Linked DNA regions of Homo sapiens: region 2 is linked to region 1. The links come from fine-mapping of genetic effects on gene expression. Tissue or cell type: whole blood. Region 1 holds a variant in brackets; the other region holds the start of a gene. All regions are shown on one strand. Distances are between the middles of the regions.

Region 1 (2,758 bases):
CACATTCTTCCATAGCACACTTCTAAAATACCTGTTTTATAGGGTTTAAACTATCTGCTTTATAGGGACCAAGTGTGGTGGCTCACGCCCGTAATCCCAGCACTTTGGGAGGCCGAGGCAGATGGATCACAAGGTCAGGTGTTCGAGACCAGCCTGGCCAAGATGGCAAAACCCCGTCTCTACTAAAAATACAAAAATTAGCCGGGGCCAGATGCAGTGGCTAACGCCTGTAATCTCAGCACTTTGGGAGGCCAAGGCAGGCGGATCGCTTGAGGCCAGTAGTTCAAGACCAGCCTGGCCAACACAGTGAAACCCAGTCTCTACTAAAAATACAAAAATAAGCCAGGCGTGGTGGCGTGAACCTGTAATTCTAGCTACTCGGGATCCTGAAGCACGAGAATCGCTAGAATCCAGGAGGCAGAGGTTGCAGTGAGCCAAGATTGCACCACTGCACTCCAGCCTGGGCGACAGAGCAAGACTCTATTTCAAAAAAAAAAAAAATCTGCTTTATAGGGTCCTTTTACAAACTATTAGGCCACTTATCCTCAAAACCAAACAATGCAATAGGGTAGACAGATAGGAACTCGCAGGCTGTTCACAAGGAAACTGAGGCCCTGAGAGGTTATGTGACTTGTCAGTCTTCCCACCTCCCTTTTGCCCATCTTATAATAGACTCATGTCTGGAACTCAATTGTCCTGATTGCTAGCTCGTTGTGCCCAGTGACTCAAGAGAGTGAAAATTGTTGGTTCAGCAGTCTATCTTCTAAATTTGCTTCTTCTAAAAGTATTTAAAAGGTATAAGAAATATAAATTACTCCCTAGGCTGCTAGGCAGGCACCTGGTTTTCTCCTGGGGTAGTCAGAACCCTCCTATCTTTAATTTTTCACGGATGAATATACCAACAGTGAACAATGGCCAGACCATGGGGAATAGAACTGAGTCTCACAAACTTTGTAGCAACCAGCTGGGGAAGCCAAACCACTTGGCTTCCAACTCAGCACCGACCAGAGAAAGCCAAAGATGCTCCCCAGACTAATCACCGAAGATGCCCTGCTTCATTTTTTTTTTTTTTTTTTTTTTGAGACAGAGTTTCGCTTTGTCACCCAGGCTGGAGTGCAGTGGTGCGATCTTGGCTCACTGCAACCTCTGCCTCCCAGATTAAAGCAATTCTCCTGCCTCAGCCTCCCTAGCAGCTGGGACTACAGGCACGCACCACCATGCCCGGCTTATTTATTTATTTATTTATATTTTTAGCAGAGACGAGGTTTCCCTATGTTGGCCAGGCTGGCCTTGAACTCCTGACCTTGTGAGCTTCCCACCTCAGCCTCCCAAATTGCTGGGATTACAGGCGTGAGCCACCGCACCCAGCCTGCCCTGCTTCTAAGCAGTCCATCTCCCACTTCCTCGTGCCAATAAGCTCCAATCCAGATAAACCTGAAGCCTTCCCTTTTTGTCACTGTAAATTCTCTCACTCCTCTGCCTGCTTTGACCTTCTGCCAAAGTGATGGAAGCTGACTCCCATAGCATAGCAAGCTCTGAGTAAATAGCCCCTGTACTCATTTATTTCCACACCA[CTGAA/C]TGAATAATGAAAGATGTTATAAAGCCAAATTATGAAAAGGGCATCAGTTATTAAACATTTGTAAAATGTTTTACAACCATCTTAGTATGCCTCATAAACACCTCGTGAAGTGCTGCCATCCCCGTTTCAGAGCTGAGAAAATTGAGAAGGAACCATGAGATTAAGTGACTTGCCCAGAGCTATGATGAGAACATGAGCCCCCCAGGGTTTGAGGTCTGTTGTTTATCCACTGAGCTTGAGCTGCGCTTTGGAATCATTACCATCTTAAAGCATTTTACCCTGTGTTGGGTGAATATTAAGAAGTAGATCACATTTCAGCCTGGCAGGCGCGAAAGTATTGTTTTTAGTTTGTTTTTCTAAATTTTAGTAGAGGACATATGGGCTCTATTAACTTTACTATGTAGCACAATTTGAAAGATAGTTTCTTTTCCAGCAAATTTTTCACCGTAATTTAACATTTTAAAATTCAGCACACACCGTCCTCCCTGGATACTTGTTTTTCTCAGAGTTGGGCCTTTTTCCTCTCCACTGCAGCTTGGAAGGTCGTAAATCCAGCCAGGGGGATTTTATTATGCCTGGGGACAGTTTTCAAAGTTAGGTATGAGTGGAAGGAAGGGAGGGCGGGTGCAACAGCGCTGGACAAAGTCCGTCTAATGCAAGACTTTCCTTTCTTTTTTTTTTGTTTTTAAAGATAAGAACTTTTTTGGCTTTCTCCCCGCAAAGCTTGCTGATGATGTTGACTGATGAGGACATGAAAAAAGCTGAGATTTGCAGAACATAACTGGAGCATAAGAACGCCTGTCTGGAAGGCAGGGGCTGCTGGGAAAGGATCTCTCTGGAGCTCCTTGCTGGCTGCAAAAATGCAGCTGTCCCTATTCCTCTCTACTCTGGGACATTTAAAAAGGAGGCTGTGTGGCAGTAGCATTTGGCTTGTGTGCCACTGTACCTGGTCAGCCTGGCATGGAATGCCTTAGTGGTTTGTTAGGGGTCACTGACTGAGGCTAAATAAATTTAGCACCATGTATACTTTCATTAAATATTAAACAATGAGGCCAAGCACGGTGGCTCATGCCTGTAATCCCAGCACTTTGGGAGGCTGAGGTGGGAGGATCGCTTGTGGCCAGGAGTTTGAGACCAGCCTGGGCGACATAGCGAAACCCTGTCTCTACAAAAAATTTA
Region 2 (2,758 bases), 52 kb before region 1:
CTTTGTGAACTGTCACAAAAGTCACAGAGCATGTGTCAGCTTTGCAGTCCAATTCAAAACATCATAGTGCCATCGAATTCAAGCGATTCCCAGAGCAAATTATCTCGAACAGCCTATGCAATTTACCAAAGTGCCAAGCAGTCCCCAGGGGTGCAGAGCAAATTATCATTTTGGTCCCAGGACCGGCTCCTCTTCACACGAGGATGAATTTCCCTACTTAGTGCCAACTGTACACTTGCATACTCCGAAAATAGGGGCAAGCCGTGAATACCAGAGGTTACAAGGGCAATGTTTTATTTTATTATGGGCTGAAGCTCAGAAGGCTCCCAATGCTGAAACGCTCGACCTATAACCCCGGAGTCACTTTCCAACTGCGCTCTCACCCAGGGTCATTATATCCCAAACGGAAGCCAATCATTACCTGTAACAAGGCCTGGAAAAAATAGCAAGAGGGCTTTAAAAGTTCACCTAAGAAACACCGAAACGGGGTGGGGAGTGGGTGGCGGGGCTTCGATGGATAAGGCCAACCTTAAAGCATCTCGGACTCAAACATTTTAAAAGCCAAAATACGTACAAAGACCCTTTTCCCTGGAAGACCCCAGGCAGAGAGAGGCACACAGACACTCAGTCATCCCGACAGCATGGGGTGCCAAGGGTTCCCTAAGACCAGCAGCCGGGATCGAAGCTCCGATGTGTCCGGGGAAGGTCTGGGAAGCCAGGCCAGGTCCGCATTGTGGCCGGGCGGTGCACGCAGCCCCTGCTCCCGGGCCCCTTTCTCTCCCCCTCCCCACGACCAGGCCTCTCCCCGCTCCTCTCCCCTTCTCCCTTCCTCCGTCCCTCCCCTCCCCCTAGACACATACAACAAGGCCACCTCCCCCCGAACCCCACCAACTTTCCAGTGCCCCCACTCTTCCCACCTCTCAGGAGCACACAGAAGCTGCAGGCCAGGAGGCTCCTCAGGACGGCCCCCATCTTCCCTTCTCGCGTTCTCTTCTCTCACCGGCGAGGGGTGGCCAGAAGTGGGGGAGGCGAGGAGCCGGGGCGGCCGCCGCAGCGGCAGGGCTGCACGCTCATACTTCCCAGCTTCCCAGCGAGAGAAGAAAGAAAGGGGCACGTCAAGGTTCCGCGCGCGCCGCCGCCGCCCTCTCTACCGCGCCGCTCGGCCCCGGGCTCGCGCGACGCCAGCGTCTGCTTCCATCCCGCCGCCTCCTCCCCCGGCGCCCCGCTTCCCCCGCGCAGCTCCTCATTCAGCCTCTGCCTCGCGCAGCGGCGCAGGGATACGGTCGGCACCGCCTCCTAGGGTCGCCGCGACCGTGTCCCTGCGCGCAACGAGCCCCTTCTCCCGGTACTGCCTCCTGTACGGCCAGGGAAGGGAGTCGGCAACCGCACGCACAGCCTCTGCCTGAGACCCTGGGAGAGGTTCTGGGCTAGCAGAGGCGAACTGGGAGGGAAAGCCTCCTCCCGGTGGCGCATTCCAGCGGGATTCTTTCCCGGACCGGCCGCTTCGGCCCTCCCCGCGGAGGGCGTGAGGCGGCGTTGAACAACATTGGAGCCGGCGTGGTCGGGACTACTTTCTGCGGCTCGGCCGGGCAGCCGTCTGCCCCGCTCTTTGTGCGGCCGCCGCCGGCAGGGCCAGGTGGGGCTCCGGTCTCGCGCCCCCAGCCACCTGAGACTGCCCAGCCGCGGTGCACGCGCGGGGAGCCACGGCGGATCCCGTTGCGGGGTGATGAGCTCCGTCTTCGGGGTTGGAAATCGGTTTCAGCATCCTTTTTTTGGGAGGGCGGAATTTTTGAACGCTGTTTACACCGGCTTTCAGCGTGGATCTGGTGAACGATATTAAAACGCCAATTCAAAACTGAGATTGTCATTTTTCTCCCGCCTTCCCAGAAATACAAACTGCCCCCAGAATTAAGCCCGACCAGCTAAAGATTTCTAAACTGGCAGATAAAATTCCAAGATAAATGCCTCAAAACCTAAGAGCAAAGGGACAATTGGACAAGACTATTTAGGATTTTACAAGTTGCATATAATAACGAATGTTTGGCATGCTTCGATTATCAATTCTCAGCTTGAGAAGGAAAAGATTCCCTAGAATCTCAGACTGTGCACAGCCTCTGCTACTCCCAGTGCATTGGGCATTCAGGAGTAATGGCCCAGACGCCCCCTGAAATCACCTGCCAGGCTTTCGTCTGGGCAGAGGCGCTCCAACAGTTAACCCTAATGGAGCCATCAGATGCATCCTGCCCAGCTGTCACACGCCCTTACCTGGAGGCAGATGGGCAAGAAAGTGGAGCTGCTACCACAATGTTAACAAGTACCTCAGTGACATTGGAGTTCACTAGTGCTTGAACACAAGTTATCATATTTGACACTCAAAACTACCCTGGGGAAAGGCAGGTTTTGTTACTTATTCTTTATTGCACAGAGGAGCAAAATGAGAACCTGAGAGGTTAATGACTTACCCAGGGCCACTCAAGTAATGAATAGCAGTACCTCAGCCCAATCCAGGTCTCTGACTTAAGCCACTCCGCTCCTTCCAAGAAATGCGCGCTGAACCAAAGGTGCTGCAGGTTTGTAAGTAGATGGACAGCAGAAACAGCCAAATCACTTTCTCCCAAATTCACCTGAGGTCTAGTCACCGTTTATTTAAATGACCTGCTTCTAAGAACCAAGTGAGTTTTGTATTCTGGCTTCCTCAAAGCAGGAAACTGGGCCGGGGGCGGGTGGCTCAGGCCTGTAATCCCAGCACTTTGGGAGG

The links. PIP is the estimated chance that this variant, and not a neighbour inherited with it, causes the effect.
Region 2: LRP6 starts here. The variant in region 1 is fine-mapped to the expression of LRP6 in whole blood (GTEx, PIP above 0.99).

The regions. Positions count from the first base shown.
Region 1 is chr12:12,318,223-12,320,980 of GRCh38, forward strand. No RefSeq gene overlaps it. Among named protein-coding and RNA genes, the nearest start is that of MANSC1, 31 kb to the right of the region's middle. The variant CTGAA/C (reference allele first, on the strand shown) is at 1,575.
Region 2 is chr12:12,265,764-12,268,521 of GRCh38, forward strand. LRP6 (LDL receptor related protein 6) reads right to left here and starts at 1,281. Exons shown (of 23, transcript NM_002336.3): 1 at 918-1,281. The coding sequence starts at 972. RefSeq lists a silencer at 972-1,281 and enhancers at 1,288-1,924, 1,462-1,511.